3 linked regions of the Homo sapiens genome follow. The protein of the gene in region 1 purifies or fractionates together with the protein of each later gene. This does not show direct contact. Each region holds a gene or a part of one and is shown in the gene's direction. Other genes may lie near its edges. The genes, in order: EBF2, ALDH1A1 and BPIFB2.

Region 1 (3,750 bases):
CCCCAGTCCCTGGATCCCGGGGCCTGTGCAGAGACGGTCCGTGCACCCGCCCCGCAAACTCCCTAACCCCCTATCCGTTTTCAAGCGAATCTCCGCAGTTCGGACCAGCACTTCCTAGTCGCAATCCCGCGCACGCAGCGTGGTGCCGCGGTTTGTCCCTTGGGGAGGTGGAGGCGCGCACCGGTCCCTTTCTCGAGAGAGCCGAGTTTTCTTGAAGTGCAAGCTTCCTGTCAGCCTAGGCAAACCAGTTGCAAGGCGCTGTGTCCTCTAGCGGCAAACTCTAGCAGTTCATTTGCGAGCGCTCACCTACACCTAAGGGATCTGGTCTCTCAAATCTGAGACCCAAGAGGGGAGAAAGTGCCCTGAACGCAGTCCAGGCGCTCGCAAATGCCCTCCCCGTAATGAGACCGGGAGACTGGGGCGCAATCGCTCGAACTACGAACAGCTGATTGTCTCCTCCACGGCAGATGGTCTTTGAGCACAGATTTGCATTCATTGTCTTCAAATCTGTTTTCGCGCTGGTGTTCTAGATTTCAGCAGCAGCAGATCTATGCGCAGATCAGAATACAAAAGGAGAAGCAAGAAAATGACACCCAGCCAGGAGGATGTTTAATAGGCACCGCGAGCAGCCCCGCGCAGTTAAAAAACCGTCTAGGGTTTCAGCTGTTCGGTGAGGCTGCTGCCACCGCCTGCCGGCCACCAGCCCGCGGCCAGCACCGCGGCGACCGCGCGCGGTGGGCGAAGTTTCCACGACTCCCCCGTCCCTCCCCGCCCACTACCGGGGGCTTCGGGAACGGAGAGGTGGGGAGGGAACCGGAGGACCCGCGGGAATACTCCCCGGCCGCTCGCGCACTCAGCCCGCCTCGATCTGTCAGCAACCTCTCCTCCACACGGGTGCGACTGCCGCTCGCGCCCGCCCGCCCGCGGGTGTTTTCCTTAGGTCCTGGACCGTTTTCCCCAGCACTGTATTTGAGCAGCACTTGCCCCTCGCTTGTCCGCCCCACCCCATCCCCCGCCTTCTTTCATATGTTCTCCACTCTCAGCAACGTGCAAGCCGCACACAACATCTGATATCACCATGGAACTCCAGGAGACCTGGGGAGCCATTCAGGGAGCTGGGTGCTCTGGGGGACGTTTGCGCAAAACATAAGCACATGTGGCCACGCTCACAAGCATGCACACAGATCCGAACCCCGGGAACGAACGTGCCTCCCGGCAGGCTACAAAAGCCTACATCTAGAGGCAGGATCCAGGGAGGCTTCCCGCAGCCAGGCCGAACCCCTGCGTCCCCAGCCCGCAGAGACCTGCTACCCTAAGTCAGTGCAGGGTGTGGGGGCCCCCCAATCCTGCGCAAGCACACGGGGTTCGTGCTAGGACTCGACGCCCGCAGCTTTCTGTCCCCTTTCACCTCCCGGAGTCCCGGCAACGCAGAGCGTGGCGCGCGCCGCCGGAGGACGTCGGCCCGGCTTGCCAGGCGCCGGCCAATCCCGCGCGTCCATGCAAATGAGGCTCCTTATCGGGCCGCAGCTCCGCCTCCCGCAGCCAGGGCCGTAGTAACCCATTCATGGGGCCCGCGCGCGGCTGCAGCCGGGCTCCGTGGCGCTCGCAGCCACCGCCTCCTCTCGGCTCCAGGTCTTCCCCTTCTTTTTACAACTGATCCTGTTGGGGATTTTTTTTTTTTCTAAATTGGAACGGTGGGGAGGAGCAGGGAGGGGGGACCTGGAGGAAGGGGAGAGATTAGGCAGCCATCAATTTCCTCCAGTTTCTCCCAGAACAGGTGATGCTTCTAAATTGTGATCACTTTCAGGAGGCAGCACTGCAGCTGGAAGGATGCGAGCGACCTAGGGTGGAGTGGCTGAGGCGGCAGATCTGAACTTGCGGAGGATAAGAACCCAAACTTTGACTACATCAGTCCGCACCTCGCCAGTGAAGCAAAGGACGGGTTATCTTTTTTTTTTTTCTAAGACTCAAACTTGGGCACTTGATCCCTTTTCTTGGATTGCTTTGGAGGAGACGATTTGCTGGCAACGTTGGGAACAGTCAGGACTGTGTTGTAACTCTTACTTTTAAAGCGACAGTAGAGGATCAGACTTTTTAAATGTTTGGAATTCAAGATACTTTAGGAAGAGGACCAACTCTGAAAGAGAAATCGCTGGGCGCGGAGATGGATTCGGTCAGGTCCTGGGTCCGGAATGTCGGAGTGGTGGACGCTAATGTCGCCGCGCAGAGGTAACGACACGGCCGCGCAATTATTATGCTGTCTCTCGCTCTTACGGTCTGTCTCTCCGTGTGCACCCCCCCCGCGCACCCCGTGCCTTTCTCTCTCCCTGTCCCCCCATCTGTCGCCCAGGCCCTGCGCGCTGGGGCTCGCCCTCGGGCAAGCAGATCGCTGCAGTCAGGCGAACGCTCACCCGGCAGCCGGCACTCGAGTTCCTGAACTGCCTGGGTCGTAGGCGTTTCTCTCCCTCTCCTTTACCACAGTCCACTCTTTGCAAGGAAAAATAAAGTAGCCCCCAACATCTCCCAGCTCAGCCCCTAGTCCTGCAAGCCGAGCCGGCCTGGCCCCGAACGGAGCGTGAACACCGGCGCTGGCAGTGGCGGCGCGGGAGGAAAGCCGGCTTCCTGGCCACTCTTGGCTTCGCCACGCCGCCTGCGAGCGCCTACCTCCCGCATCTTGCTGGGCGATTCCTGGAGCCTGGGAGGCCGGCGGCCAGAGGGTGGCGGCGGCGAGGGGAGCGGGAAAAGCCGGAGCGGCTGCCCGGGAAGACGAGGCGGCCGGGAGCTCTGGGAGGGGGGACAGGCTGGAGGGTCCCGGCTCAAAGATAAAACAGTGAGCCAGACGAACGGAGCTAGGGAACTGGAGAAAAGAAGAGATTTAAAAGAAGAGAAAATACTGAGTCACAGTAGAAAGAGTTGCGGAAGAAGAAAGAGGCGAGAAAAGGCCACCAGCAGCTAGACTGGCTCAGGGATCGCCAGCCTCTGGTTTTGCGGATCCCTGAAGTTGACTTTGTGTTTAGGCGTCTGCGTGCTGGGATAGTAAATACCATGTCCGGGGTGCCACCCTACGAAGACATTACGGTCCCACTCTCTCATCACCACTACTGAGTTGGGATTTGTGGCCTCCAGGTCCTTGTCTGCGAGAGAGGCAGCCCTTCTACCCCCAAAGAGCCGATGAACTTCTTCCACTACCCTCGCTTCCCCTGCTGCCCTCCTGGCCACCCACATTTAAGTGCCAACATCACACGGAGAAATGATCCCTTTCCCAAACTGGCCAGGTGTCCCGGGTAGAGCGAACCGGCCTCTACCCTTGGAGCGGAGAAAGCAGAAGTTTTATCGCTCCGGGACTTGGGCCGGCGGCGGTTCCCTCCCTCCTGTGGCCCGGGGAGCGCGGATTTCCCTCCGGCAGACCGCACAGCGCGGCGGCCGCGGCTTTCCGCAGCGCTTCGGGACTGGCCCGCCTGCGAGCTAAGGGAAATAAGGCAGCACCGCAGAGCCAACTGTGCCGCGCATTTCCTTAGCTGGGCTCCTTAAAGACGCCTCCCTCGCTTTCCTTCCTTCCCGGGATCAAAAAGTTTGTTGAAGCTGGAAGGAGCAGACTTAGTGGGGGAGAGCTTAGCCAAAATGTTACCCCTTTCAAAAGAGTGAATGAAGGTGCTTGCGCACCGGGGTTCAACCTGGGAGACCCCAGCGCCGCAGGGCAGCTCCCGCAATCTGTGCGTTCACCTCAGCCCCAAGTCTTCGGTGAAATGG
Region 2 (3,650 bases), on another chromosome or scaffold:
GGGATATATTATATGTTTACAAAGTGTAAGTGACAACATAGAACCATGTTCAAAAGAATTTGAGCAAGGATTGCTTCACAAACCCTTACTTAGAATCCAATAAATCAGAAAAGTAAATCTGTGTAATACTGGTTTTCCTGACGCTGACATGTTTTGGGTGTATAGATGTATATAGCAAAAGTATCCACAAACTTAGAAGCATTGCTTGAGAAGGATGTGAAGTGTTGCTAATATTGGGTTTTCTGATATTATCTCTACCTGATTCATTGTAACGTTTGACTTACTAATGGAAATTTGTTCACTGGGGAATTTGCACAAATCTCACATCTCTAAAAACTTTGCCTGAACCGTTCCCTCCCCCAACCCTGGTCCCATTTCCACTGACTATTTCCACTGCTCTATCGATACTTTTTTAGATGTCAAAGGAATACAAATAACTACTGAATTATGCTTTATATTTGGCATTCTTTTAGAAGGAAGAGGGCTTACATGCGAGCAATTCTATTACTAGGTCTTGATACTGCTAAAAATGGGCAGAACTTTCTATCGCTTCTACATCTTAACTCTGATACAGAAAATATATGATGTACAGAAGTTGCTGACAAGTTTTGTTATCATCTCTAGGACACAGTGATGGAGTGGCTCAAAACAAATGCTGTGGCATCTTTTCTCTTTCCCTGACACAATTGAAAAGGCTGATGGGGTTTTGCAAACAACAAGAAAAAAGAGTATATACTCACGTTACTAAAGTCAGACTATCATTTAAAACAAATGAAAGGAAAATTTTATTTCTCCTATTTTTTGTTTTCGTCATTCTGTCATTTTGTTTTCATTCATTTGATGACAGTTAAAAATTTTCTTTCCCTTTGTTATTTCCTCCTTAATTTCCTTTTACATTTTCTAACTTTGAGTCTCAACATTTTGCTTTCCTGCCTCAGGGTTAGGGTGCAAAGCAGTTGCCAGAGATCCAGCTTTGATTCTTTTAAATGTTTAACACCCCACCTGACTTTTGTTCAGTCTCTCCTCCTCATTATTCATCTCCGATCTCATACTCCCTGACTCCCAGCGGCCTTTAGTACTTTGGTAGGTTCCTAAGCTGAGAAAAGGTTGACACATTTACAGCACACACCAGTCTCCACAGGTTCACACCACCACCCATGCAGCCTATGCTGTGACTCAGTTCTCAAGTTTGAAAATTCACATGGATGACATTAAATGGGGACTCTCATCACCCTCCCTCTCGTTTGGAAAATCTTAAAAGAAATTCTTTGTGCATTGAAAATGTGATCTCTTAAAATCTCTCTCCCACCAAGAAAGTATTGCCTTCCTTTACAGACTCTAGGGCTGCTGGCCCAGTTGCTGCCCTGCCGAGATAATATTAATTTAAGGCACTCTGAGTATCTTTTGCAAGGAGTCAGGGGCTCCCCACTTTAGCCCACAGACTCCAAAATCTCATATCAGCAGATAAGGCAAATAGGGCTTTATTTTGCCACTAGTCAAAACTAGCTTTATCCAAGCCAGAAATATTTTGAGAAAATTATGCTTATTTATTTAGAACTGTAGATTTATACACAATACATTAAGACATAATAACTTTTACTCTGGAAAGGCAATTTTTTTCACAATTATGACTAATTCTTGGACACCAGTTGAATCCAGGAAATGGCTACTTGTTTATCAAAGGTAAAATGATGCATTTCTTAAAATGTGGCATATCTAAAATCTGAAGTGTAAAAATCCATTTCTAAGTTGCCTCAACATTTCTATTGATTGCTTCCCCATATAGAAAGTACTTGAAGTCCAAGAGTATGCATAGGCATTTATAATTTCCAATCAATATTTCAAACAGAAGGTTGATGTCTACTTTACATATATATTATTCAAAAGTCACCTAAGTCCAAAATTCATAATTAGAATTGAGTTAATATATAATGGTTACATAGAACCCAAGAATATTTTACTTTTATAGTATCATCTCTTTTCCTCTAAGCTGGCTAAAGGCAAAAAACAAATGGAAAATAATATTGTCACCATTATAGAACATTAAACAAGCCTAATGTAAATTTTATAATTATTATAACAAACATTCATTAGCCTAGACTTCTCCATATAACCATTAATATAACTATAGGAACAGTGATTATACAAAAACGTTTGGTCACACAGTTAGCTGGAAGGCAAATGCCCAATGTAAAGCTCCTATAATTAAAACAGAAAAAAAATGTATTTGAGGTAGGCCCTATGAATAAATTATCTGTAGCTAAGGGGAAGAAAAAGACTGGGCAATACCTGGCCTTCTAACCATCTAGGTCATCACATTACCTATGCCAAATTCCCTTTTCATGCTGAAACGCCTCTGTTTGTGGGAGAATGGCATAATTCATAATTTGTAGACTGCACTGTTACATCACTCTCCTTCAAAAGCCTGTGACCTTATGATAGGATTATGAAATTAGTCTCAAGGCTAATTTCTTGGACTCTGGTTGGTCTACTTCAAATCTACTTGGGATACTTTAAAATCAGTATTCCTAAACATCCATTTGATCTGGTCTCTCTCCCTTTTTATATCCAGAATAGAGCCTAAACTTCTTTCTCTGGGGATCAGGATCTGCCACAAATTGACTTTATTTTCAATGTCAGGCCTTATCTGTGACTTATGTCCACTGCAACTCCATTCTGTTGGGAGCTGCTCTGTTTACTGTGTTACAAACCTCCAAAGATTTGTCCCTCCCTTTACTCTTTTTTTTTCCTTCTTTCCACCAATCCAGTTCCATCCTTCAAAGAAGCATTCTTTCAGCCTATGCCCCTCTACACCATTTATTGACAACACCGCTGCTTTGGCCATTTTGCTCCACAGTCTTTAATTCTGTACTGGCGGCTCTTGATATGAATACATTCTCCTCTTAGATTATAAGCCCCTGAGAGCAGAGGCCATGGCTAACTCATCTCTCATTTTTCCACAATAACTGCCAGACTATGTCTCAAGTATTTACTCATTATTGGACAAACACTTTTCTGATAAAGCAAAAGTTACTAATCATGATTATATAAATGTCAACACAAGTTCAAACACAAGTTGGGCTCACAGTGTCCTCCTGTCTTAAAGGTTAAAACTGAATAATGCAGAACAGTGCTGGTAATTTGGGGTCCTCTACAGCTGATCTCTTCAGTTGCCTGCAGGCTGCCAGATAAACATGTGTTATTACTTCAGGTTAATGCTCATTTACAAAACATTCACTGGCTTTAATCTAAAGTGGCAGTTTTATGTACAGCTTAGATGCAAATTCTGATCATGGAACTAGATGGTACATACATACTGTAATAATTCTTTTACAAAAAAGTGTGTAAAGAGAGTAAAATAAGCTATAATATATTGAGAGCATATTATTGAGAACTTGAAACCACAGATTATCACAGACCTAAGGATAAGAGGACTCGGGCGAGAACTAGAAAGTCCGACCACAGGCCTAGCAAAATGTAATTGATTCTGTATGTTGTTTTATTTTATTTTTAATGAAATTACATTGTAGAAGGGTGAAATTCTGGATCTCTGCCAAAATGAAATCTGTGTTCCCTTAGTTTACAGGTACAAAATCTAAGGTGGTAATACAATCTTTAGGCAGAGAGAAGGCAGAATTCCCAAGTGAATA
Region 3 (3,750 bases), on another chromosome or scaffold:
GGTTTGGTCAATATTTGCGCCTCTGTCCACTGAGTCTGCTGTTTGCATCAGCTATGGTGAGGGCGCAGGAGGGGCCGGTCTTGGGCATTGGTGGACAGACCAAGGCCAGGAGCAGGGTGTCAGGGAGCTCACAGCAGGCTCTTCTCATTCCTCTTTGCGTCTAGAATAGGGGCAAGGGAGCACTGGTTGGGAGGCAGGGCTGGTTCAAGTGAGCTCCAGCTGCTCAGGGGAGGGCTTGATGGTGTCTGTGGTCAGCTTTGTAGACACTGGTGGAGGCCTAGCACAGGGTGGGCCTGGGAGCTGGGCCTGATATTTGGGCTGGTGTGGGGTCAGTGGGAGTCAAAGAGTGCCCTGGAGTTGGGGAAAGGCCCCAAGTCATCCTGTGCCAATGAAGAAAAATGGAAAGGCCATCGCCTGCTGTGCACACATATATGCACACACACAAGAACATATATACATGTACCTCCCCATCCCAGGAAACAGTCCACTTGCATACACACATGCACCTAACACCACACACTCACAGACCCACAAACACTCAGTAGGCCAAGCCCACACATGCATACATGTACACAAAACTCCCCACCTCTGTGGTCCTGTTGGATTGTGTGAATAGACACACAACACCATAAACCAAGATGCCAACGTGCCCATTTCATGTCCACACTCACACATAAGAGCACACATTTTCCCCGTACATGTGACTATGCACACACACTCACATGCATGTATCAACACAACCCTCATCCACACATGTGCATATGCAAATTCCTTCATGCGCACACACAGTTCCTTGGGTCCCATCCAGCCAAGGCGGAGGCTGACGTTTGTAATGTGGAAAGAGACCGTGGACTAATCCATTGTGAGTGGAATGTGCATTTGGAGAGAGGCTGGGATGTTAAGCTGTGGGGACAGGTCACGCACACTTTCTCTTCTGTTCCCTTCTGAGTTAGGGCTCAGTTTGTGACTGGGATCAGGGCTCAGCATGTGATCAGGGTCAGAGCTCAGTAACTGGGGTCAGGACTCAGTGTGTGAATATGTGACAGGGTCAGGGCTCAGTCAATGACTGAGGATGGTGCTCAGGTAGCCTTCTGCCCCTCCTAAAAGGGTCATGTTTCCGAGAGAGCTTGGAGGTACCAGGCTTGAGGGGTCATTGCAGCCATCCCCTTGCCTATGGGAGGGGGGATGGGGTCCTCATGGGCCCCATCCTCCCAGGCCTTGGCTGGGCATGATAAGATACCCTCCTAGAAGCAGCTTTCCTTCCAGAGATCTCCTGGCCCTCACTAAGGCCATAGCTGCCTAGCCCCAGGGGCTTGTAGTGGTTGGGAGCTGGGCCTGGCTACTGGCTACGTGGCAGCCCCAGCGCACATGTGGGATGAGACACTTTGGCAAAGGCCATGTTTGCAGGGAAAACACTTGCAACCACAAGCAAACTCGCCGCTCCCTGGGTCCCTTCCCAGTGGACTCTGCACATTGGGAGCCTTATAAAGTAGCCTCTGCATCTGCCTGCCTCGGGCAGAGGAGGGCTACCCTGGGGCTGAGAGTTCACCTGTCTCAGGAACCACCTGAGGTAGGCATGGGGCTGGGCTGGTACACCACTTCCAAGGAGGCTTGGCTTCTCTATCTGTTCAGTGGGGATGCTACCTCCAGCCACCCTCTGCAGAAGGGTCCTTCCACCCCTGGCCTTGCTGTAGGACCTGGGCAAGTGCCGCCATCCTGGGTCTCAGCAGACCCACCTGAGCCGCAGTCCCTCACTCCTGCCTGGCTCCCTCTCCCTGAGTCAGACACAGATCTGCCTATTTGGCCAGACTGAGTCAGGAGAGGATGGGGGCCATGTGAGAGGCCTACTCTTAGGCCATTTACCACCTGGCCAGGAGGGGATGAGGACAGGAGCCACCCTGGGTCCTCCCCTGGCTGAATTTGGTGGACAGCTGGACACCAAGCTGGCTGTCACACGGGGCTGGACTCCGGCATCAGGTGATACAGTCCTGGGCATCTTCTTGGGACAGGAAACTACCCTCAGTCTCCCCGTTTGGGAGTCTCACCATCCTTCTATGCCATGGCTTGGGTCCTGCACCTGGTCCCAGTCCACTGTGTGGCCCTAGGCAAGACCATTTCTTCTCTGGGCATTGCGGGTCATTTCCAGAAGGGACTCCCCCATGATTCCTGATGAAGCAAGCAAGGCAAGGTGATGGTTCCCAATGCAGAGATGCAAAAACTGATGTCTGTGGGCCTGGGGCAGGGCTGGGATCACCAGTCAGGGCTTGTTCCCTCCAGGCTGGAGTGGGGTTCGGGTGGCTCAGGGGTGGGCTGTTTTGGCTGAGCTCCCTGATGCTCATTTCTACCCCAGCCCACAGATCCTGTGGGCAGCGGCCAGGGCAGCCATGGCTTGGGCAAGTAGGCTGGGCCTGCTGCTGGCACTGCTGCTGCCCGTGGTCGGTGCCTCCACGCCAGGCACCGTGGTCCGACTCAACAAGGCAGCATTGAGCTACGGTAAGCGGTGTGTTACCCAGTGAGTGTCTGTGAGCCTGTACATGCGTGTGCAATCCTAAGTGTGTGTGCGTAGCTGTGAACTCAAAAGGCCCATGAGGACCCAGATTTTAATTGGAAGTTGTGTCCCTGGCACCCAGACAGTGCCTGACACATGGCGCTGCTCAACAAATGCTTATTACATAAATGCGTGAGGGGGGAGTACGTCATGTGGCCAGTGTGCAAGTGTGCACATGTGACTTGCTCACATGCTTTGGTGATGTGGGCATAGGTCGGTTTGAGGGGCTATTTTTACCTGTGTGTGTCTACTTATGAGTTTGAAATTTCATAGAGCTGTGCCCACGTGTGTACTTAAGTGTCGGGGAGGGTGCAAGCCCATGATGCTGCCTGGATGTGTGTGCACAGGTACGGCTGTTCACCCTGGGTGTACACGTTTGCGTATGTGGTGTGTGCACGCACGTGTGTTCTTGGGAGAGGTCTGTCTAGCACCGTGATGCAAGGAGTGTTCTAAAGTTATATCCCTTCTGAGCTCAGCGTGAGAGAACCATCCGCTCTCTGGGTCCCACTTGTGCGAGGGCTCTGTCTTACGGCTGTGCTGCTAGATCCTTCCAAGTCTTGCCCCAATCCCCTAAGGAGGGCACAATGAAGAAACTTAGCCCCAGGGAGGGACAGACATTGCCAAGGTCCAGGACGCCAGCACAAACATGTTTATTCACCTCGAGTTGCCTCCCGGTGAGAATTTGGTTTCCCACCAAAGCCAGGAGATCAGAAGCGGTTTCCCCCAAGGCCAAACTCAGATTACAGTGTGAGAAAGTCAGGTCAGACAGTAGATGGGACCTTCAGTGGCCCAGGACATGAAGCAGTGGCTCAGGGAAGTAGCAGGTTTCCCCCACCCCTGGGTAAACACAGCCTTCCGGGACCTCATATCCGGGCTGATGGGCAGGCAATGAAAGGGGTCAGTGATCCGTGCCAGAGCATGACATGGAGCCATTCATGGATGCCTGCAGGTAGGGCCATGAGGCCCGCGCCCTCCGCCGCCTTCCTGCCCTCTGCCCATCCTGTGCAAGCCTCCTTTGTCCCCAGGGAGCCCTCCCCAGCTTGCCTGCCTGTGTTTGTTTTTGGCAGAAATCTGGCTGGAGGCCCACGCTGGACGCATTGCTCCCCAGGCTGGGCTGAGTGGCTACTTCCAGTGTCCTCCCCACCCCATCCTGCAAGCCCCAGAGTTCAAACCCTGCGTCAAGGGAGCACTGTAGATGGAGT

Evidence for each region.
Region 2: the proteins of EBF2 (region 1) and ALDH1A1 purify together in Homo sapiens (affinity purification with mass spectrometry; one large-scale study listed by BioGRID and IntAct). This does not show direct contact.
Region 3: the proteins of EBF2 (region 1) and BPIFB2 purify together in Homo sapiens (affinity purification with mass spectrometry; one large-scale study listed by BioGRID and IntAct). This does not show direct contact.

The regions. Positions count from the first base shown.
Region 1 is NC_000008.11:26,043,208-26,046,957, reverse strand, and holds the start of EBF2 (transcription factor COE2), read left to right. Parts: upstream 1-1,544; 5' UTR 1,545-2,098; coding exon 2,099-2,229; intron 2,230-3,750. UniProt on the Homo sapiens protein: Transcription factor that, in osteoblasts, activates the decoy receptor for RANKL, TNFRSF11B, which in turn regulates osteoclast differentiation. Acts in synergy with the Wnt-responsive LEF1/CTNNB1 pathway.
Region 2 is NC_000009.12:72,943,049-72,946,698, reverse strand, and holds part of ALDH1A1 (aldehyde dehydrogenase 1A1), read left to right. Parts: intron 1-3,650. UniProt on the Homo sapiens protein: Cytosolic dehydrogenase that catalyzes the irreversible oxidation of a wide range of aldehydes to their corresponding carboxylic acid.
Region 3 is NC_000020.11:33,006,191-33,009,940, forward strand, and holds the start of BPIFB2 (BPI fold-containing family B member 2 precursor), read left to right. Parts: upstream 1-1,513; 5' UTR 1,514-1,570; intron 1,571-2,350; 5' UTR 2,351-2,384; coding exon 2,385-2,493; intron 2,494-3,750.